Linked DNA regions of Homo sapiens: region 2 is linked to region 1. The links come from fine-mapping of genetic effects on gene expression. A gene starts in region 1. The other region holds a variant in brackets. All regions are shown on one strand. Distances are between the middles of the regions.

Region 1 (12,296 bases):
CACGGTCAGCCCAGCCAGGGTGGTCAAACAACCTGCTCTTGAATGACTTGGGGATCCCATACTCTTCACTTTTGTTAGGGAGAGGCGGCACTTTTTAGGGAGTCTGCTCGTGCATGAGTGACCCCAGGACCTGGAGTAGAGATGAACATCAGGCCAGTCAGGGTGGCTCATGTCTGTAACCCCAGCACTTTGGAAGGCCAAGGTGGGAGAATCACTTGAGACCAGCCTGGGAAACATAGTGAGATCCTGTCTCTATTAAAAAAAAATGAATTAAAAAAAAATAACAACACCCTGGCCAGTTGGGTGGGCCAGAGCCCCTTTTGGTTCTTTGAGATACGAACAAGGAGATTCCTTCCTCAGAGCTTCTGTGGTAGCCGAAGCCAGCTGCGGTGGGTGATGGGGACGGGCCGGCCTCCTCCCGCCCCGATGTCATCATTACATCCAGCCGGTTTGCGCTTCACCGGTGGCTCCACAGCTTTCCCTTGCGGCGCGCCTGGGGGGAGGTCAGGTGAGGAAAAGTGGCCCCGGGAAGCTCTTGCATTCCCTCTTCCTATCTGACGTCTCTAGGGCCTGAGACTGAGCTGGGGGTGTGGAGATGGAGAAGCAAAGCGAGAGGAAAGAAGTGAGAGGAGAAAAGAGCAACCTGCATCATATGCTTCATCTCCTCTTGTTCTGCAAGCAGCAAAGAGCAATGTTGTCCCTTGAAAGCATACGCTGACGCTGAACTACAAGTCAGCCTTCACCACTGAGCATGGGCAACTGAAAGAGAAGGTTCCTCTGCCATGTGGAACAGCAAAGCTGAAACAGCGGTGGCCGGCACTCTGATGGCATGGCCCAGCCCATCCTCCCCACTCTAACAAATGGTTTCCATCACCGAAGGCAACTCTAGTAATAGCCATGCCTTGCTGAGTATGTCGTCTGGACCAGGCACCAGGTCAGGTGCATTCCATATTTTCTTACATCCTCAAGACAAGGCTAGGACATTGGTATAACTGCTCCTACCTGAAATAATCGAGGTACACAGAAATAGGTGACTTGCTCAAGGACACTACATTATTTCGATTTCATTCCAAAGTTTGTGTTCTTAGTCTCTGTACTAACTGCCACCCATCTTTGCTGCTGTAAGGAAAACTGCAGCCTAGCCAAAGTGAACCCAAGGCTTGCAAGCAGCAAGTCCGCCTGTCATTGCCTATGCACACCCCACCTCCTGGGAGATGGGGAAGGGGCGATCTTTGGACACTGAGACATTTTCTTTGGGAAATACTCCATATCTTTGATCATTCTGACTGCAGCAGACATAAGGGATGGAAAAGATGCATTCTTTTGCCAATGGGAAGGACATCACGCACATATAACACTTGTCTTTCTCCCTGGTAGCCACAGAGCAGGGGGGGGCATGAATCTGTTTCTGTTGTCATCCAAACCAGGACACCCTTGAGAGGGAAAGACGGTAGTATTAATAATTATGCCAGAACAGGCAGAAACTGGGATGCTGCTGGACAACCTAGGCTGCATGCCCACTTTAGTGTCTTGTGGAAGACATTTTCCCCACAGCATGCAGGTAAGGGGGCATGGAGATGGCTGTGACAGCCGTCCCTGAAGTCAGTCCCCAGAATCTGACCTCCTGCGAGTGTTCTGCTGGACTTTGGGAAGATGAGCGCCACTTTTCGGACCCTCTCTGCTAAGAAGAGGACTCGAAAACTCTGCTCACTGCAGAAGCACTGGCGGGACAGGCGTCCCAGGCTGGCGAGAGTGGGCACTGCCATGCTGCCCCTCACTCCATCTCGCCCCGGGTTCACACAGGGGACACTGAGCAGCAGCTGGACGTAGACAGAGCTAATGGAGTCTTCCCAGGTGGTCCCTCCTTTCAGAAAGGCCCCTCTGTCTGAGCTCCTTAACTCTGAAACCAGATAAGAAGGTGGGAGACAGGGGCCCCTTTTCTCATGGGATTAAATGAACTCAATTGACAGAGCTCTGGAAAACTTCATTGTCGCGTAACATAGTGAGACCAGCTTTGGCAGTGGTGCGTTCTTTCTCTCAGCCTCCACGGCGGTTTCTTTGCAGGATAGGGCCTCACAGTGGGCCTGGATGGCTTTGAACTGCTGGATTTAAAGACCCACTCCCACAACATAAGCAAGTATCAGAGGGTCGACAGAGCCACAGACCCTAGTCCTGAGAAAGAGGCCGCCTGGTGGGATAACAGTGCACAGGATTCAGCTTTGGGAGACTTGGTCTGCAGGCCCAGCCCTGCCACTTACTGATCCTGATCGGTGCTGTCTGATCCTGAGGAAGCCACATGTCCTCTGTGAGCTGTGCAGTCTCCCTCTGCCCCCCTCACTGGTATTTTCATGGAGGTGATGTGTGTAAAACCACGCTGTGAATTGAACACGCTCAGAGAGTGGCTAAACCTTCCAGAAGACTGGCTCATCATGAAGCAGCCACACAGGTGCTCAGACCGGGATTGATCACCTAGTCCAGGTGTCCTGCTTCACAGATGAGGAACTCTAAGCCCTAGAGAGGTAAAGGCTCTTCTCATCCTCCACACCCCTGATTACCAAGAGTAATCACCCCAGAGTGCCTTCCCTCTGTGTGAATGAGGTCTCCACATAAAGGACTGGCTTCCATTTGCAGGAGGTGGGTGTGGGCAGCCAAGGTCTTGAGGCACGGGAACTTGATTTTCATTCTTCTCTCAGCTGGGCTCATGGATCTGTTTTCGGAAGCGCAGGGGACTGAGCTGAGACAGTCACGCCTGTCCTGCAGCATCTCCAAGGCTGGTCAGCTCATCATAGCACAGGGGCCCGAGGGTGGTCCTGGACACAGCTGTACCTCAGTCCCTCCCCCACCCGCCACGGTGGCAGCAGGAGCACAGGTGGGATGGGACATGAGACCCAGGGTGGAGGTGGCGGGGCTAGTCTCCCTGAGGGAAGACTTTTCTTCCAGGTGAGACTCAGAAGTCAACCCCCTAGGGAGAGGAACTCAGCCTTCAGAGGTGCCCGATGCCTGTTTTGCTGCGCTCTCCTGGTCCAGGTGGGCTGGCTGGGTGTGCAGGTGCCAATGTGCAGCTGGGAAAGGTCCAGAAATGCGTGTTTGTGGGGGATGGGGAGCGGGGCAAGCAGGAGCCACATCGCCCGGTCAGGAGTCTCATGAGGATGGCAATGCCTGGGTGTCTCTGACACAGAGAAAGCCGAATTGTCTGGGGCAGCAGACCTGAACTTTAAGCTGAAGGGAACAAAATCGGGTGCAAACCCAAGCAGAGTCTCCTGCTTCAGCAGCCCGGGCATCCTGGGGTCGGGCCTCAGAGCATGTCTGCCTCTAGATAGCTAGGATGTCTGGAGATGCGAGTATGTCCCTGAGGCAAATACTCAGTTATCTCCAGCGTCCAGGTGATCAGCTGAGAGAGTGAGACAGTCTGGCCCTGAAGGCTGAAAAATGGACTTTCTCTGCTGGCACGGAGTTCTCTTGGCTTTCCTATGTTTTGGTTCTTAGGTAGATGTCAGAATCTGTTCCATGTGTGGGGGTAGAGGGGTGTAGCACCCCGCTCTGGGTTTGCAATGGGTGCATCTTAGCTTCTTACTTTTTTTGTGTTTTTCTTTTTTCTTTTTTTTTTTTTTTAAGATGGAGTCTTGCTCTGTCACCCAGGCTGGAGTGCAGTGGCGCGGTCTCCGCTCACTGCAAGCTCTGCCTCCTGAGTTGACACCATTCTCCTGCCTCAGCCTCCCGAGTAGCTGGGACTACAGGCGCCCACCACCACGCCTGGCTATTTTTTTTGTATTTTTAGTAGAGACGGGGTTTCACCGTGTTAGCCAGGATGGTCTTGATCTCCTGAGCTTGCGATCTGCCCACCTCGGCCTCCTAAAGTGCTGGGATTACAGGCTTGAGCCACCGTGCCCGGCCATCTTAGCTTCTTTCTGGTGGAGCCCCCTAGGAGCCAGGTGTGGGGGTCCTAAAGAGATGGGAGAAGCCCTCTTCTCACCCCTCTCCTGCCACACTCTCTAGTACTTGCTTAAAGAAAGGAGTCAGAGGAGAGGGCTGGTGCTCCCACCGCTCCGTGCTCTCAGGACAGGCAGGGAAACAGGTGTTAAATCAGCGTGACCCAAAGCTGCTCTGCCCTGCTTTTGGGGAAGCAAATACCACAAGGGCTTGCAGGGGTGCGTCCCTGGGGTGTAGTCAGCACCTGCAGTAGCCAGAGGGGCAGCCACGTGGACTCTCACCCACAGCAGTTCCCATCCTAATCATCTGTTTCTCCCTGGGTCTTTCCTACCCTGCCTTTCCCAGTGATAGAGGGTGGGAAAGATGGGGTGAGAAACAGAAGGCTGATCGCCTCCTTGTCTGGACTATTCTGCACAGGCAATGCCTATGCCCTTGGGGCCCCCAGCAGTCGGGCACAGACTGAGCCTAGTATTGGGTCCCGGCCAAGGATGCCATCACCACAAAGTGTCAGCTTAGCTGCTGCATTGCCAGGATCCCTGTTTCAGGGAACTATGACGTCTGGGCAGGTCAGTTCTTCCTTCCCTGGCACATCTCTGGTTCTGTGCTCCCTAGGGGCAAAGAGCACCCCTCTTCTGGAAGCCTTACCCTCTTTTCCTCCTGGAAAAGCCTTCACCTGGTCTTTAGGGGAGAAATTGGGGTTTAGGGCAACACAGACACCTCCTGCTGAGTCAGCACCATCTTTGCATCTAGTTAGAAATGGTCTGGTTAGGTAGCCATCCCCTGGACTCTGTTTTTCTCCCCTGTTTAGGTAAGAGCTGTGTCTGGGCTAAGGGCAGCTGGGTGGACCAAGTGTGGGTCTGGCTTTACTAGAGACATTCACCCAAAGAGCTCGTTCCAGCCCCTGCGCCCCTCGCGTTTCCACCAAAGCTTCAGCTCCTGGGCTGAGCCCCCAGGCAGAAGTTCTCTGCCCCTCCCTCTTGTGCTGGCTGCTGGCATTGCCAAGTTCTGCCGGGGCTGAGCGCCAGGTTGGCAAGGTAGTCCATGCCCCATTGATCACAACCAGCTGGCTGCACAGAAGTTGGGCAGCCCCTCTCCAGGTTCAGCTCCTTTCAAACAATGTCTTTTGCTTATGGCGACCTCCATACCCAAGGGAATCAGACAGCCATCTCTCTCCATCCCATCTGCCTTTCCCTGGGAGCCTCTCAGATCTGGAGGCAGTAGAGGGCTGAGGGGTGGGAGTGGGAGCTATTCGTAAACGCTCAATTTTCATCTCTGCTGGGAGAGGCAGGTGCCGGGGAATGCGTTGATACCCACTTTCGGGTCAGTGCGCCACGTGCCGCGGGAGATTCGGATGAGAGGGATGGGCGTCGGCAGCCCCACTCTAAACTGGAAGGGACCTGGGGGTGGGGGCGCAGGGATCCAGGGTGGCAGAAGTTCAGAAAAGAGTTACTGCTCTTTCTCAGACAGGAGAGAATCTCGTTTGGGGTAAGGCTGGAGAAGATGAGTGGGGAGGGCTTTTTTTTTTTTTTTTTTTTTTTCTCAGAGGGATTGGAAGGGGAGATTTTAGAGACGCTGGGAGGCGTCTGGGGGGCCTCCGGGCACGGCGGCTGGAGGAGGCTCTCAGTCCTACCTGCAGGTCGGCCCCGTAGAAGGCAGCCATGGACGCATCGGCCACCAGCAGCGTCTCCACGAAGCGCGCCTCAGACACAAACCGCTTGGTCCTACTCGTGGCCCCCAGGGGCGGTGGCGGCTCGCTAGCGCCTTCTGCCTCCTCTTCTTGGCTCTCCTCCTCGCTGTCCTCCTGGTGGTCTCCTCTCTCCTGCCTCTGACCCTCTCCCGTCTCCACCTCCCACTCGGGTCCTCGCGGGAGGGGGCGGGCTCCGGCGGGACCCCAGCGCTGCAGGCGGTGCGGCTGAGCCAGGGAGCCCCCCGCGCCCTGCGGCTGGATGGTGAACTCCTCGCCGTCCAGCAGGAAGGAGCCGCTCAGCCCGCGGCACAGGCTGACCGCCGCCAGCGACTCGGGCTCCCCATTCACGGTGCCGGAGAAGAAGCAGCCGCGCAGCCCCCGCTCGCCCCCGGTCGCCCGGCCGGAGCCCCCGAGGCGCTCGATCTTGAACTCGGGCGCTAGGAAGCTGTCGTCGGGCGCCAGGCGCAGCACGAAGCCCTTGCCGAAGGCGGACAGGTGGAGCGCGAGCTCGCCCGCGCTGCCGGGCAACCGCGTGGGCACCACCAGCTCCGAGGCCTGCCCCCCGGCTGCGGGCCGGGCCGGGGCGCCGCGGGCCAGCGGCAGCAGCAGCAGCAGCAGCAGCAGGAGCGGAGGCCACCGGGGGGCGGCGGGGGCGGGGAGCATGGGGGCTGCGGCGGTGGCTGCGCGCAGGAGAGGGAAGAAGCCCGCCAGGCGCGGGCAGGTGCTGGCGGCCCGAGCGCGGCCCGGCCGCTCTCTCCAGGAAAAGCGGAATCAATCGGGTGCAAGGCCGACTCGGCCCGCGGGGCCCGGCGGCGGGAGCGCTCCCCCGGCGGCCCCTCTGGCTGGCGCAGCCCGCTCCTCCCGCGCCGCCGCCCCCGAGCCGAGCGCGAGCAGCTGGCCCCGGCCCGCGTGCGCCCGTCCTCCGCCCCTGCCCGCGCCAGCCCCGCGCAGCCGCCTCCTGCCTCCTCCCCACCCCGGGAAGCACCGAGTGGGCTGCCGAGCCCTTCTTATTTATACTTCCTTCCCGGCTTGACATAAGAGGTTTATTTTTGATCTCTCACTATTCCCGTTTCCCCTCCCCTGGGATCAGAGAGAGAAACTGAAAAGAGGGAGAGAGAGTGGAGAAAAAAAAATTGGGATGAAATGCAAAACCAATCAGGCAGCGAGACCCGTCCGCCACCCGCCCCCCTGAAGTGTCAACTACAACTTCTTTCCTTTCCCTCTACGCGTGGACCCACGTTAACCCCTACCATGCTGGACTGACCCTTTAGAAAGAGTCCCTGGGAGACCCCAACCGCTTTCTCCTCTGCGGCCAAGAGTCCAGGATGCATCTTCCGAAGAGGCTCGTGCACTGGTCTCAGCGACCCTGTTCGGATCCCTGCAGAGTCCGACTGCAGAGCCCGACACTGTTGGGATCCCTGCAGATGCCTCCGGAGATCCGACTGTGTGGGGAGAAGGTTCCTGAGCTTTTCATTGTAAAGCATAAAGGGAGAGGAGGAAAAGGTCATGCTAAAATCATGCCCTCCTCTCATCACTACTGCACAGCCTTCCTAACTTTCACTCCAAACTGAAGATGGGGAAAACAAAAACAAAACAAAAAACAACCCACCTGGTTAACCCTAAGAGGGACTCTCACTGTCCTGTTAGAGGGCAGGTGGGGCAGAGGCCAGCACAGTGGTAAGTTACCAGCACTGAGGTTGGAAGTTAGCATTTCCCCAAGAGGGAAACAGACCTCCAGTCCCTGAAAAAGGTCTTCTCTTCTGGATACTGCTAGTTGCCCGGGACTTCAAGTAAGGTGGCAGGCCCTTTCACTGCGTTGCCACAGCCCCAGGAACAAATGTGTATGAGGTGAATTTATTCTGTCCCATGTCACCACTGCCCCCTAGGGAAGGGGGTAGTATTCAGGAAGAGAGGGATGACATGGTCTCAAGACCACAAAACTGCATCCCATCCCAGTCTCAATGACACAGGTCTGGATTGGGTGGAGGGCCCTGTTCTCTACCTACAAACTCTAGACTCATCCACCAACTGTGCCTTTCTCTGAGTTGTCAATGTGGGTGATGCATTAGGAACCGCTGGGATCAGGGCCTTTAAATCCTTTGCCAATTCACCTGCCCCCAGGTACCCAGCTCTGTGCTTATGCTGGGGATGTTGACAGTCGAGGTCATCGCTGATTCTTTTCAGCCCATCTGACCCCTTCCTGCAGTGTGGTGGTTCAGCATGCATCTGAGACTCTCAGGGCTTGTTACCTCCAAAGAGGAGGCTCTTGCCCAGGGGAAAGTGCTGCCAAATTCCCTCTAAGTATCCCCCCTCTCTTTGCTTTCTCAGAAACACAGAGGGACAGCTGTGAATTAGATGAAAGGATGAACTTCCCAACCTAGCATGGTGCAGAACCTCCTTTCCTGCATAATTTATAGGATAGGAATAACGAGTCTAGAATGTTTTGGGGAAACACTTCTAGAGGAAGGACAATGGAAAGAATGGTCTCTTCAACCCTTTTCTCAAAACAAGCAAAACACTTCGTCCTAGCACAGTGTACAGTGCTTGGGACATCCTGTACAGTGCTTGGGACAGTCTGACCTGGGCAAGCAATGAATACAACTCTGTGTTGCCTCAGGGCTATTGTAACAGTTCAATGACTGGTTTTTACCTCCTTGAAGCCCCTTATTTGCTGTTTCCCAGAGTACAACTCCTGATTTTCTCTTTTTGAGACACAGTCTCACTTTGTCACCCAGGCTGGAGTGCAATGGTGCGATCTTGGCTTACAGCAACTTCTCCCTCTCAGGTTCAAGAGATTCTCCTGCCTCAGCCTCCCAAGTAGCTGAGACTGCAGGCAGGCACCACCACACCTGGCTAACTTTTGTACTTTCAGTAGAGATGGGGTTTCACCATTTTGGCCAGGCTGGTCTCCAACTCCTGACCTCAGGTGATCCGCCTGCCTCAACCTCCCAAAGTGCTGGGATTATAGGTGTGAGCTACTGTGCCAGCTAACTCCTGATTTTCAGTAGCAGTTAGGTCCTGTGGGTTTTCCTTCTTTCTCGAGTGTAAGCATCTGGGAGGAGTGGGAGTGAGGAGCGTGCCCAGTTTCCCTTTCTCCCGCCCGAATGCTAAGGGCTAGAAGTGGGAGATTTAACTGAACCAAGGAAAGTCTTGAGTGTCCATGGAGCCTTTGGTTGTGAAGGCTCTGGAAGTTGCTGCTTCATTTTTATTTTAGTTTTTAATTTTTTGAGATGGCGTTTCGCTCTTGTTACCCAGGCTGGAGTGCAATGGCGAGATCTCAGCTCACTGAAACCGCCTCCAGGGTTCAAGTGATTCTCTTGCCTCAGCCTCCCAAGCAGCTGGGATTACAGGCTCCTGCCACCATGCCCGGCTGATGTTTTTTTTTTTTTTTAGTAGAGACAGGGTTTCACCATGTTGGTCAGGCTGGTCTTGAACTCCTGACGTCAGGTGATTCTCCCACCTTGGCCTCCCAAAGTACTGGGATTACAGGCGTGAGCCACCGAGCCTGGCCACTGCTGCTTCATTTTTTTAATAGGATGAAGTGCCCCCATAGGTAGCATTTTGGAAGTTCTCTTTGGAGAGAGAAGTCAGATAGTGAGTTCTGGACTTTATCCTTCCTCATTTCAACAACAACATCACCACCACCCCCACCACCCCCACCACCCACCACCGCCGCCGCCGCCACCACCACCACCACCACCTGCTGACTGGTTCATTGACTGGCCCCGCAGTCCCCGCTCCCTCCTGGATTTCCCCTTCCCCAGATGTGCAGTGCTGCTAACTTCCAAGGTAGCTCCTGCCGTTCGCAATGCAACCACAAGGTGTCAGGCTTACCTTGGCTATGTTAAACCCAGGACCTGGCTATGTTAAACCCAGGACCTGGCTATGTTAAACCCAGGACCTGGCTATGTTAAACCCAGGACCTGGCTATGTTAAACCCAGGACCTGGCTATGTTAAACCCAGGACCCTTGCCACAGGGAGCGAGAAAGGGTGGGTGGTTTGTAGTGGCCGCTCTTAGAGGAGTGGCAGGTGAAAACAGTGCAGCAAAACAAACATCAACAAACCAACCCGTGAAAATCCCATAACGGCATTCTGCCAATTCCGGATTTCTTACATTACTACTTTATTTCCCAAAATATGTAATTACGGCAGGGTTGCCAAACTACGGCCCTTGGGCTAATTGCTGCACACTGCTTGTTTTTTTGCACTCTACAAGCTAAGAATAGTTTTTATATTTTTAAGTGGTAAATTAAAAAAATTAGAAAGAATATTAAAATTTCTTGACACTTGAAAATGGTATGAAATTCAAATTTGTGTCCATAAATAAAGTTTATTGGAATGCAGCCACAGCCATTCATGTACGCATTCTTTGCTCTTGAGCTGCGAGGGAAGGGTTGAGTAAGCCTAAAATATTTACTATCTGGCTCTTTGCAGAAAAGTTTGCTGACTCCTGAATGTAAAAGAGCATCAATTTGGATTCCTCAAATTTGGAATCTGGGATTACTTAAGCTCGCTATATGCCATTCTTATGGAATAAGAAGCTCAAAATAATTGCTTGCTCTGAATGTGAAAAGGAAATTATATAAAAAATGAAAATATCTTTGTTTTGTCTTTAATTCTGTATCTAATAGTTGCTTATTATTTAATCCATCCTTAATAATTAAAAGATTTTTATGTTTATGGTGTCTTATACTGTAGGCCTATAGTGATTTTTAAGTTTTTGATCAACTTACATTATTAGTGACTGCTTATTTCTTAGTTTATAACTAGAGTTTTATATGGTATATATGATACATTTTTAGTGTATATAAGTTCTGGTATTCTTTAGAATTCCAGACTCCTTAAAACGGGAAGAAACAATGGTGATCATCTAATCCACTGCCACTCACATTTTGCAGAGAAGAAACAGAAATTCAGAGGTTTCAGTGACTTACCCAAAATGACATAACTAGTGATGAATTTTTTTCCCCAAAATACTATCGTATCCTCTACATGAAGATAAAAAAATTGTTTTGCTTTAGAACTTCATTTACAATTCGTACATTTTCAGTAAAGTTTAGTGTTTACTATGGGCCTGGGCATTGTTCTGAGCACTTTTTTTTTTTTTTGAGACAGAGTCTTGCTCTGTCGCCAGGCTGGAGTGCAATGGAGCCATCTCGGTTCACTGCAACCTCTGCCTCCTGGGTTCAAGTGATTCCCCTGCCTCAGCCTCCCGAGTAGCTGGGACTATAGGCGCATGCCACCATGCCCAGCTAATTTTTAGTAGAGACAGGGTTTTACCATGTTAGCCAGGATGGTCTCGATCTCTTGACTTCGTGATCTGCCCACCTCAGTCTCCCAAAGTGCTGGGGTTACAGGCGTGAGCCACCGTGCCTGGCCGCACTTATTTTAATTTAATTTCCATTCAATCCTCAGTAATAATAGCTTCCATCTTTTGAGTGCTTGCTGTGCACTAGGCACTGTGCTGAGCAGCTCACAACTCTTATCTCATTTAATCATCATGACAGTCCTCTGAAAAAGACACCTTACAGACAGGTAAAGAAATAGGCTGGAGAGGTTAGAGAACTTGCTTATGGTCACCTAGCTAATAAGCAGCAGAGACAGAATTCTTAACCAAGGTGGAAATCATAAACTGGAAATTGAATACGACAGTTTTCTGGTGAGATTGTGGTACACTGAATTAGTGTTCCTTTGAGCAGAACCAAGGATTACATCATGGTATTACAGAGCTGGAAGAGACTCCAGGTGTTCATTGGGCCTGTCGTTGGAGATTTCTTGGGAGAATGGCCCTCCTTTAAAAATCTCAAAGAAGGGAATAAACAGCTTCTCTCAAAAGCCTGCGCTAGCACTTAAATATAAACAGAGTTCTTTCCTTCTAAACAAAGTAATACCATTTGTGCTACAATTCACGTCCATTTTCTGTAAGTTTGGCTATTGTGCAATGGCTGTGACTCCACATTGCCTGTAATAAAGGATTTCCTTGTCCTCCTCTATCATATCACTGAGCACACATCCCAGGCAGGCAATGTCTGATTTTTGGCATCACTTTTGTGCTGACAGTCGCCTTGTATTCCCTTTGGCCTGCAGGTTTCTGTGACTGCCACCTGCATGTGTGGAAGCATGTCTGTGCTGCTTAATTCTTCCTTAGTCCTAGATAGTCTCTCTTTTTGGAACCTTTAAAGGTTTTCAGTATTTAGAAAATCTTTTTTTTTTTTTTTTTTTTGAGACAGAGTCTTACTCTGTCACCCAGGCTGGAGTGCAGTGGCATGGTCTTGGCTCACTGCAATCTCCGCCTCCCAGGTTCAAGCAATTCTCCTGCCTCAGCCTCCTGAGTAGCTGGGATTATAGGCACCCACCACTATGCCTGGCTAATTTTTGTAATTTTAGTTGAGATGGGGTTTCACCCTGTTGGCCAGGCTGGTCTTGAACTCCTGCCCTCCGCCTCCCAAAGTGCTAGGATTACAGATGTGAGCCACCACGCCTGGCTGGAAATCATTAAATCATATCCCTGAGGCCACTTTAAGTTCAATTCCCTGTAAAGAGCTAGCTACTCTGATTATTTTTCCTGCCTTCATCTGGTGTTCACAGTCTCAACAGGCATGCTCCCAATTCTGTGATCTATATCAGGGAAAACCAGATTTAGCAGAAACTTTACTGCGATATTGACATTGTATTGCT
Region 2 (11,465 bases), 23 kb before region 1:
GCCTCAGCCTCCCCAGATGCTGGAATTCCCGGCATGAGTCACTGTGCCCGGCGTATTTTTCTTTTTCTTTGTTTTTTTTTGTTTTAGACCTAGGTGTTTAAATCTCATGATGTACTGTGCCCTTCAGAGAGCTGGAGGATTAATTTAATCAGGGGGAGGAGTTATCTTCTGAGTCTTCACTCTCCTATGGACTTGACAGAGATTGAAACATGCCTGTTGAATCCAAAATAAGAGAGAGTTATAATGTTCCTCTAGATTCGTGTCTATACGTGGCCCGTTAATGGTGAGCTGGTGTCCCCTCTCCCTTCCATGATAAGAGATACGGTACTGGGCTCCACTTAGCAGTGGAGGTGAGTTTGTTCACTCACAGCGAAGCGTGGCATGGGGATGAGCTGGAGGAGCATGGGAAGCGCAGAATAGTTCTGTGGACAACCATCGGTATTGCTGAGAGGGGGTCTGCTCGGGTTGCTGGACAGTTTCCATCAAACGCTGTAACTTTATGGTGGCACCAGTGTGCTCAGGGCTGGGATTCCCCCGGGGTGTGGATCTGCTTGTAGCAGGATGACGTGAGAGGTGAGAGGTGGGGAGAGGGGAATGGGTGCCGTGTGAGGCTCTGCCTGCTGAGCAGCACAGAGAGTCTGTGGGGCAAGGGCAGTGAGAACACTGGCAAGATTGAGGTGGAGGCGCTGAACGTGGAGTCCAAGCAGCTCAGGGAAAGCTGAAGACAGAGGAGCAGGAAAGATGGATGGGGGAAGGACACGTGCGGAGGCGGTCAGGGCATGGGGAAGGATGCATTTATGGGAAAGATCTGGGAAGATGGGAGATTGTGGTTGAGGAGGAGGAGATTTGATGTAGGACTTCAGAGGTGGAGCAGTTCTGAGTAATGAGCAGCTTCAGAACGTGGCTTCAGGGCAGCCTCGTTGAACCTTGTCACTGATGGGACCCTCTCTTCCATCCCATGTCCACATGGCTTCTCTCCTTGCAGCCTCTGACGCACCTCCCCCGCAGCTACCCTTTTCCTATTTTCTGGTCCAGCAAGAGGAACTCACAGCATCTTTTCTTACTTCCGGAGAAATTCATTCCACATGTGTCTGATTCATTCGCGTTTACAGAAACTTGAAATTTCCAGTGTCCAAAAACCCTTTCAACTATTTTTTTTCTTCCCTTTCTTAGAAACAGGAAGTTGTGTTTGGCTGCGGACAAACTCTCTCAGTGCCCCTGGGACTTACAAGATGTTTGGAATGAGGAACGGTGAGGTCTGGGGAAGGCTTCTTTCCTCTCTCCTTTCCTGGGGCGATTCGCATCTGCCAGGGCTGGGCTGGGCAGCTCTGGGGGCTGGAAGGCCAGCCGGAACCTTCCTGTCTCTTTCTACTGAGCCCCAGGCCTGAGGGAAAGTATGTTCTAAAGAGACAGGTGGCTTTCTTGCTCTCTGCTTGTCATTACGGTTCAGAATGCACTTGTGCACTGGTGTCATGTCTCTTCCCAGTACTTGAGCAGTGGCTGTGATGAGTCCCTTGATCTATTTCAGGGGGTGTGGGCTGGCCGGCACTCAGTTTTAAGCAAGTCCTGCTCTTTCCAAAGTGGAAGGTCAGAAAAACTCCCCACCTGAAGAAGAACGAGCCAGGGAAGTGTGGTACCAGCTGTTTAGGACCACACCTATTGGTTACGTCTGGCCAGGTCATTCTGCAGTGTTGACCTGGAAAGCACACAGGTGCTTAGGAGGGGCTGGCCAGGGGCAGGGAAAGTGTGGGAGTCACAGCCCACCCACTCCGTTCGCGGGACCCTCCAGTTTTTACTGTTGCTCGTTGTGTTCTCCTGTGTTGTTTAGAATGTTGTCATATGTACGGTCAATACAACCACAGTATTTGTCGCATTAGTGATCACCAACATTGAGCCAATGAAGACGCTGGCTTAGATGGGTGACTTCTTCTTTCCCACATTCCACATGCAGCTCTCCCAATGCGAGCTCAGCGGAGGCCCCCAGAAAAACGTGGGGAGGAGAGTTTTCCCCATAAGACAGACTGTCCTTCAGCCCCGGCCACCAAAGAGGAGTAACCCGGGCCTGCTGTTCTCTGGGACTGAATGCGGCTGCATCCTTCCCTTCCTCTGCTTCCTGTCCCGGTACTTACTGACGGTGCACATGCGGGGCTTGGGGAAGCTGAGTGTCTAACCGCGGTGCAGCTACGGATGGGAAATTCTGGGCAGGGACGAGCCTGTCTTCACCTGAGGAATTCCCTCCCACATCACACAGGGCAGAGTGGGAGTGGAGGAGGGCAGAGGACACGTCTCAGGGCCAGTAACCTAGGCTTATAGAAGACGTCATCACCGTCCTCATGATGTTCACCCCGTCTCCTGTTTTTTGGGGCCATGTGTTCCGAAATGTAGCTTCAACTCATCATAGGGGCAAAAAGAAGTGATGAGTCTGTGGCAGCAGAAATCTGGGAATCCAAGGGTCGTGCTACATCTAGTCCTCTTTGATAAATTCTGCCTTCCTGTTCACATTTTTCGAGAAACCATTTTGAATTCCCAAACAGCAAAGGAAATGCTGCAGGTTCCTGGAGGGACCTGGTGATCTGGGGCAGAGCACACGGAGTCGAGATTGCTGCGGGGTTCACGAGCCTCCCCTCCTGGGACCAGGGGCACCTGGGCAGGGTAGTCTGCACCACGCAGGAAAGCCCAGTACACGCAGCTGCTCAACGCTGCAGACGCCATAGCGCAGGGCTGACAAGGCCTCCCTCTTTATCTGCCCTGGACCACAAGTGGAAAATATCAAGACAAAGCAAAAGCCAGTATCCCTTAAGAACTTTCCAATTGTTCTTGTCATTTGTAGTTTTGTTTTTTGGGGGGTGTGGGGAGGGAGGGGTGGTTTGAAACAACTCCGGAGCACACTCCAGAGGAAAACAGGAAGGGTGACATGTTTGGACACCAGAAAAGAGGAAGAGTCCTCACTAAGAGGGTGACTTGGTTAAAAAGTTCAAGCACAAAGGATGTAGAAGCAGGTGGATGTCATCAGAGAACAGATGCGGATCTAGTGAGATGGGTCCTACCACCCCTGGAATATGTTCCTGGGAGAGGGGTGGTCTGCTAGAGTGGACTGGGAATAGTAATATTGCATACTTTTGTAAATTCACAAAACCCTCTGATCTGTGATAGAGGAATAAAGGGCAGAGGATAAACCCCAGATAAAGATTCACTTATCTTAAAAATGAAAGGTTGGAAATTAACTTTATGCTACTGTACCACCTTCGAAGTATTTCTGGCAGGTGCCTGGAGGATTCAGATTAATGACCAAATTACCTGCCAAGTCAGGGCCTCCCATTAGAAGAGAGTACCAGTTTCCATTAGGAGCACTAGCTGGAAAACACAATCTTTCAGCAGAGGAAATACAGTCTTCTCTCCTTCTCTGGGTGCACAGAGTGGTCGTGGTTGGCTGGGGCAGATAATGGTGTGGTCTTCCTCTGCAGATCTGGTTTCTGAGTCCCTGGGCTGCAGCTGTTGAATTTCCAGACACAAACAAGTATGCGTTCTGAGAGCCTCGCCGAGCCCACACAACCGGGAGAGCCAAGCTGGATTCCATTCTGCTTTGCACATCAGCAGCTCTGCTGCCAGCTGAACTCCAGGGCAAAAGCTGTGCCTGGTAATGATGCAGGCAGCAGGGATGGCACAGCTGGCCTGGCTTAGGCCGTTAAGGGGGACACGCTTGGCCTTATTTGGGGGAGAGCGAGAAATGGAAGGCGATGAAGAGTTGCGGAAGCATACATCAGCCTCCACAAAACTGGTGCACAGCAGGGAAACAATCTGGTTTTGCTAGTCATCAACAACATGCCTGTGTGTGTGCCTGTTTATGCTTAGGTAAGCCCAGCCTCCCACTCGCTGAAAAGAGTAGGCAGACAAGAAGGAGTGACCAACTCTGAGTCAGCTGTCATCGTGTAGAGAGCAGCTAAGGGGAACAGTGGGGCTGGAATCTCATGGCCTTGCCTAGTGCCCCTACAGCATCCTCTCTGCCCATGGTGCCAGATATCTGAATGGGAGGACAAAGGGGGCACAGGTGGTGAAAAAAACCAAGATGCACATTTGGGTATTTTCCTTCTTTTGCTAGAATGTCATTTCTTGATGTCTGTTTCTTGTCACCCATTTGTGATCAGGGACTAAGTAAGTTCCCTCTGCACCAGACCAGGTGGAAGACTGAGCCAGAGTTCCTCTGAGCCACAGGAGAGATGAGGAGCTATGGAGCGGAGTAGGGGCTGAGGATCTGGTGCCCCCAGCTAAACTAAAAGGAGGCAGGCAGCATGTAAGAGGATGATGGGGTAGCTCACAGAGAGGAAGGGGATATTCTTTCTCAAGAATGATGAGCCCAAAGGCATCGCATAACAATTGTGATCTCCCAGCTGGACGTTTCCTGTAGCACAGGTGTTCACAGTGTGGCTCCCAAACCAGCAGCCTCCATGTCAGTCACTGGGAACTTGTTAGAAATGCAGATTCTCAGGCCACCCCAACCATTAGATCAGAAACTCTGGGGATGGGGCCCCACAATCTGTGTTTTCTTTTCTTTCTTTCTTTCTTTTTTTTTTTTTTTGAGACAGGGTCTCACTGTGTCATCCAGGCTGGAGTGCAGTGGCATGAAAATGGCTCACTGCAGCCTCAACCTCCTGGGCTCAAGTGACCCTCCCACCTCAGCCTCCTGAGTAGCTGGGACTACAGGCCTGTACCACCATGACCGACTGATTTCGTTTTTTAATTTTTTATAGAAACAGGGTCTCGCCATATTGTCATGGCTGGTCTTGAACTCCTGGGCTCAGGCAATCCTCCTGCCTCAGCCTCCCAAAGTGCTGGAATGACAGGTGTGAGCCACTGTGCCCAGCCTCACAATCCATTTTCACAGCCCTCTACGTGATCCTAATGAAACCTTGGGAACCACTGGTCTAGATCCTGCAAATGAAAGTTGCCCGAATGAGCTGGATTCTGCAGGCCTGTGAGGACCCAGAGCAGGCAGGGATCCAGCTGCTGACCTAGTTTCAGCCTCCATCCCTGGGTTCTAGGTTGCTGCCCTTTCCAAAGAAACAATGAATCAGACCAGACCACTGCATTGGCATAAGATCACACTTTAGTTCAGAGACACATTTGCATAAATACTTGAAATGGATCCACCCCTGCAGGTGGCAGCCTGAGAACATGTGGCTCTCCAAACCCTGCGACGCTGCGGCCCTTTAGGTGATGGATTTTAACACTGAAGACAGTCGTGGTCATTCTTGAAGACAGCTTGGGGTCCAGCTTTGGAGCCTGCTTTGACATTCACCATTGACTCCCTGCCCCACGCCTCTCTTGTACTAATTTTTTCCCCTGTGAGGTAGATTATTTATCGGGGAAACCAGATAGAATTTTTTTTTTCATTTAAGTTTGCTAGTCCTTTGCAAACAGACTGACGCTGAGTGTCCTGTCTGAGTCAATAAGTGCACTTTTACCTTTTAACCTATGCCCTCTACTTGAACCCGAGCAAGGTCCAGTCCACTGGACAGTTGATGATAGGGTCTGCCGCCCCATACCCTCTCCTCTTCCCCCTTAGGAATTTGTGCAGTACTGGAGGGGTTGCGGCAATGGGAGGCCTGGGTGGGCCGTGCTGCCTTGATATGGCCAAGGGACCCAGTCACCACAGTGGAGACCCTTGTCTGCACCTCAGTACCGCATGTCCAGGAGCACAAGACTGGCCCCTGCCCCCCTGAATCACAGGGGGCACAGCTGGCTTTCGCAGGGCTTGGCATCCTCGGGTTTCAGAGCCTTGTTGCAGGTGGCAGAGGCCTGGCCGGAGGGGTCCCTGCACTCTACAGTTCGCCTCTGCCAGCCGGCCCCGCAGGTGCTAGAGCACTCAGACCAGTCCCCCAGCACCCACTGTGCGTGGAGCAGCGGCTGGATGATGTTGGTGGTTGCTCTCTCTTTGCTGCTCTGCATGCTAAAGTCCACGTCATTAGGAACAAAGAAGGTGTATTTGACTTTTGGGGGGAAGACCTCGCCAGGGACTGTCAGGAGCTGCACTGTCAGAGGCTCTGGCAAGGGCCGGAAGCTCTGCAGGCGCTCCAGGGTGGCGATGGAGCCGCTGTACTTCAGGATGGTCCCCTTCACCAAGATGTCCTGCTCTATGGCAGAGATGGCCAGGTTGCCGTTGAGCAGGTACTGCCCATCAGCCGTCTTCAGCGCCAGGTAGTTCCCATCGTTCTGCACACCCGGGTGGCTCCGCTGCTTCACGTCAATATTAGTGGCACCAGCTGGGATGGTGACAATGTCATTGTAGCCATAACTGTGATAGAAACAGAAGGACACCCTTAGACCAGTGGCTGCCCAGCCCAGGTCACGATGATGCCTTGGAGACTGAAGTGGGCACCCCAGGTGGCAGACACGAAAAAAACAAAGCAAGTAATTAAGCAAGTTGCCTCAAAGTTCTCAATAAATTAGCTGTTTAGGCAGACAGAAATGTCTGTACATTGGGATTTTCAAGGGTGTTTGCTTCATCTGGCAACTCTATTTCAAAAGTGTGGTTGAGGAGTTGAGGTATGTGGGTGTTGAGAACAGCATAGAGACGAGGAGAACCCAGAAGGATGTGGAAAGCTGCACTGGTGTAGCCAAACCTGGCACCTGTCAAATGTGATCTCAAATACCTCTAGCTCCTTGCACTGGTATACAACTTTGATTGGCCACCTCCATACCCAGAGCTCAAACCCACATGGAAAAAACTGTTCCACACACCCCTTCCAGAACGTGAACAGGAGGGAAATTTCACACCACCTCTCTGAGTCAGTCGGCTCCTAGTATTTGATGAATATGGCCCTAGGGTGGGATCAGGGTGGGGTTGGGAGTTGGGGGTTTAAGCCTGCTTCTTTGAAGCCACCTTCTGGGAGTGCCCAGGCACCATGAGCACTGTGCTTCTGGAATGATAGGAAGCAGTTTTGGGAAACTGTTTCCAGTCCATTATAGGCTTAGGGCTTTAGGTAGGATGAAGAAAGATTAGTTGTTTGTTCTTTTCTGGAAATCTGGGTTCCATAGGCTGGGGAGAAAGTGAGGCGAGTGGTCAGGCGGGCTTTTTGCTTTTCTTACCATATGTCCAGCTGGGGCTAGCTGCTTAGTTTCAGACTCTTAGAGTGTCCACAGGCCCATCTGTCTAAAGCCTGAGGGAAAGTGGCCAAGGGACCCAGTATCTGAATAGTGTCTGCTTCTCTTTTTCTATGTCTTTTGAGCTTAAATGTAAAAAGAGTTCCAAGGCAGGGCGCAGTGGCTCATACCCACAATCCCAGCACTTTGGGAGGCCAAGGCGGGCGGATCACTTGATGCCAGGAGTTCAAGACCAGCCTGGCCAACATGACGAAACCCAGTCTCTACTAAAAATACAAAAATTAGCTGGGTGTGGTGGTGCATGCCTGTAATCCCAGCTACCTGGGAAGCTGAGGCAGGAGAATTGCTTGAACCTGGGAAGCAGGTTGCAGTGAGCCAAGATCGTGCCACCGCACTCCAGCCTAGGCAACAGAGTGAGACTCTGTCTCAAAATAATAAAAATAAATTAAAAAAAATGAAAACAGTCCCAAGTTGCCTGCTGTAGGCTGATTCTGTTCTCTCAGACTGGTGAGATGAGAGATGTAGAGACAGACAGACAGACAGACA[G/C]ACACACACACACACACAGAATGGGGCAGGGTTTGCGAGCTTCACTAGGTAGAATACAATACAGTGAACACTTCTCAAAAACTCTGAGACCGTGAGTGGGGGAAGTGGCTGGACAGGTGGATGCTCACATAAGCCCTAGGACACATTGATGTACTGGAGGCAGACAGGCAGAGTGTGGCCCATATAAAACACCCGAACTTGCCCTTACTCTGCAGGAAGTACATGGAATGGGAGACAAAAGTCATCCAGGACTTAGGAAAACTAGGTTCTCTTCTGGCTGTCATTAACCATCAATGTGACCTTAGAAAAGTCATTTAATCTTTCTGTGCCTTAATTTCTTCCTCTGCAAAATGAGGAATAGTATTGGCCTTGCTCACCTCATGGACTTATTTTACAAATCAAATGAGACCATGGAAATGAAAGCGCTTTGGAAAATCCTTGGAGTTTTATGAATGTGGGGCATTAGGATGAGAAAAAAGTGTCTGGAGTTCTCAGATTCATGAAAGCCCTGAGGCTGCCAGGGCCCCTTTTTGGTAACCCCCTTCTCTGAAGATCCATCTGCAGAAAGGACAGGGGCTTGCCAGGCTTAGGGTGAGACGTCCTTCCCAAAACAGGCCTGGGAGAGCTGTTTTCTGGCAGAGGTCCAGGTTACTCAGTGTGGCTCGATTGACTCAGAGATGACAGCTCCCTATCCACATGGCCTCCAGCCCTCGTAAAAGTCACGGCTGCCCTGTGTTCTATCTTTTCTATGAGCTCGACACTGCCAAGTGCACATCCCATCTCAGGAAATCCTTACAACGACTCTGAGATAGAGATACTGCTGACATTTTACAAAGAAACTGAAGCTCGGAGAGTTTAAATAACTTGCCCAACCCTCACAGCTATTAAGTAGCAGCCACAGTTCAATTTGGGCCTAGCAGAGTGCAAAGCCCATTATGCTCTTCTACCAAGCAAGGTACAGAACTTCTGGGGAGACTCACTTGGTGGGGGTGAGGGACCCGGAGACCTTCCTGCAGGAGTTGCCTTTGCCCCCACACACCCCGCATTTGTCCAGCTTCCGAGGCGAGTCCACCACATGGTCACAGCCGGCCTTGACACACTGGCCACGGACACAGATGGCCAGTGTTTCTGGCCCACACAGGGTGCCATCAATCACCTGCAACGGGGAAAGGGAAGGTGAGGGAGGGCGTGTTGAGCACAGAAGCAGCCTGCCGGGGGGCGGGGGTGTGGGGACAGGCGACCTTCCTCCCCATCTCTGGATCTGAGTCCCAGGGTGATTCTCACCTTGGCCTCGAACACTTTGAACTCGCTCCTCCCCCGGGCTCGGCAGAACAACTTGCAGCGGTCCCGGGGGGACACCCCAGCATACTTGGGGACCCACTGCAGGAGATTCCCGTCCATGTCAGTGTAATTGTAGGCATTATACTTCTCACACTGCTGCTCCCTGAAGCTTTTCCCTAGAAAGAGGAAGAAACGGCATGGAGGTGACACCCATGCGGAAGCAGGAGCATCCGGTGGAGAAATCCCGAATTTACAGCACTTTTCTTCTTTCTTTTGGTTTTGAACTCAACCCAGGCGCCCAGGGCCAGTGTCTTCTGGGCACAACATTCCTAGACGCATGTGTGACCCTTACTCAAAAGGGCAAGGAAAGGAGCCTCCAGCCGCATGCTGGGCTTTCTAGGATAAATGCCCTTTCCATTAGGGAAAGAGACTCATTGTACTCTACAGGTGAATAAACGCAGGGAGCAACAGGGAACAATTCAGTAAGCTTGGAAGGCACAGAATGGCATGTGGAGCTATATTCTCAGGACACTACTAATTGTGCAGTATCGATTTCCTCAGTGACACCGGACATGAATCCAAAGACTCCTAAATCTACATGTCTAGCTCTGATCTTGCCCCTACACCCACATTCCGTAATTCTGGGTGTCCCTGGGGAGCTCCGTTTGTATGTACTGTGATTACCTCCAACTCAGCATGGCCAAGCTCCCGATGGTCCTTCCACGAACTGTCTTGACTTTCATTTGCTGATCTTACCATGCCCAAGTCTGAGACTGGTATCCTGGTATCTCCCGAACATTTGAGCATCTCTATCTGCTATTTCCAAACTGTCACAAAGACCCACACTATATTCAGGACAATCTGTGATTTAAAACGATGGCATCCCACTCTCACCACCACAAGCCCAGGCCTGCTGGCTTCATGGGGACCTGTGCCTGCCTCCTCTCCATCCTGCCACGTGCTGCTGCCAGACCAACCCATCTGAAGTTAGATGTGGGTTGCTTTCCACCCCCAAATCCTAAAATTAAAGCTGTTCTTCCTGCCAAGGTTCCCTGCCCAAACTGTGCATCTGAATGCCTGGGGAGACTTTGCCAAGGCAGATGCCATACTCCACGCCTGAGACTCTGAGTCAGTGCAGCTGAGGGGGTCTGGGCTGTGTCTGCAGGAGCTTCCAGGTGACTTAATGGGACAGGTGGCACAGATAACTCCCAGATACTGTGTCAGCCTTCAAGGACCTCTGTGGTCTGGCCTTGACATAGTGGTGTGCTTTGCTTGATTCCACCTAAGTGAATGAGGGCCCTTCTCACACCTTTCCACCACCCTGGCAGGTCCCCTCACACCTCACCCATCTCAGTCCTCCAGACTCTGCTCAGTCCTAACTCCTTTCAAAGCTTCCGCTCACCCAGCCTTTCCTTTCTCCGAGCGCCTCACCAACCTAGGGTCTGTGACTCATCCATTGAAATGTAATGGCTGTGTTAAAGGGATTTGGGTCTCTAATTGGACTACAAGCTCCTTAGGGACAGAGACCATGCCTTTTACATTTTCATACATTTTTATAGTTCTAGACACACAAAAAATACTAAAAAATACTCGACAGTAATGGCAGACTTTGGTGCATCTGACATCATGGCATCACTTTTCGTCCACACCTACCTTGCACCCTATATTCATTCTCATCCTCCCCCTTTCCCAGCAACGTCTCACCCTGTATGCCAGGCAAACTCTCATACAATTCCAGGGCAAAGTTTCTAGAGCCTCAAACCATTGTGGATCCTTCTTGTCTTGTGAAACCGCAAAGCCTACAGATTCTCCTGAGACATCAACCCAATGCCAGTGTCTTTTCCCGTGGTTGAATCTCTCCTAAGGCTCTGCCTGATTTTTCTTGCCTGCCAATCCTTCCTGGAGCTGCACACTGGGCAGTTGGATGGGATGGTGGGGAAAAACCTTGTAATGATTTCCCTCTCACGAGTTTGCTGCTGCCCCTTTACTGCCTCTAAGTTAATGTTCATGGTTTCCAGCAGGTACTGGGGATAGGAATATGCCAAGGGGAGGGAGAGGTAGTATTCCTTCCTGGGAAGATTCTGTCAAACAGTTGCCATGTTCCCAAGGGAAGATGGGCAACTCTTCTCAGAAGGAATGTGAACAGGAATCAGATTCAGAAATCCTCCCTCTGCCCTGGGCTGAATTTTGGCTAGAAAGACCTTGGAGGTTTGGCTCTGACACTTGCTTTGGAAAATGCTTCCATTCTGCACACAGATGAGGGTTCCTATGCCTCCAGGAGGATTAGTTTCCTAGACACCAGCCCCTCTGCAGAGGCTCCTCCCCAATAAGTTTGGTTGGGAGTGATGTCCTCCTCTCCACATCTTGGAAGATGAGCGTAATTTCTCTCCTTGACTTTGCCAGGCTCTCTGAACACTATGAGAGCTGTCCCGGGTCCCTGAGAGCTGCCCCTGGGATTGGAACCTTGCAGAGCCCATTTAGGTGGAGATCACAGGCAAAACTCTACATCCCAGGAGACCCAATTTACTCCCCTCTGG

Alleles and levels. Alleles are on the strand shown, and positions count from the first base shown. SD is a standard deviation of normalised expression in the study named.
With allele G in place of C in region 2, the expression in prefrontal cortex of the gene that starts at base 6,603 in region 1 is higher (small effect, 0.27 SD a copy in CommonMind).

The links. PIP is the estimated chance that this variant, and not a neighbour inherited with it, causes the effect. A credible set is the group of variants that fine-mapping cannot tell apart.
Region 2: its variant is the best candidate, but not a certain one, in a credible set for the expression of ADAMTS8 in prefrontal cortex (CommonMind, PIP 0.84).

The regions. Positions count from the first base shown.
Region 1 is chr11:130,422,007-130,434,302 of GRCh38, forward strand. ADAMTS8 (ADAM metallopeptidase with thrombospondin type 1 motif 8) reads right to left here and starts at 6,603. Exons shown (of 9, transcript NM_007037.6): 1 at 5,561-6,603. The coding sequence starts at 6,280.
Region 2 is chr11:130,399,837-130,411,301 of GRCh38, forward strand. It overlaps ADAMTS8 (ADAM metallopeptidase with thrombospondin type 1 motif 8), which reads right to left. Exons shown (of 9, transcript NM_007037.6): 7 at 8,932-9,104; 8 at 8,628-8,803; 9 at 5,087-6,292. The coding sequence ends at 5,722. ZBTB44-DT (ZBTB44 divergent transcript) reads left to right here. Exons shown (of 7, transcript NR_148980.1): 6 at 1,174-1,251; 7 at 3,465-3,821. Among named protein-coding and RNA genes, the nearest start is that of ADAMTS8, 23 kb to the right of the region's middle. The variant G/C (reference allele first, on the strand shown) is at 7,648.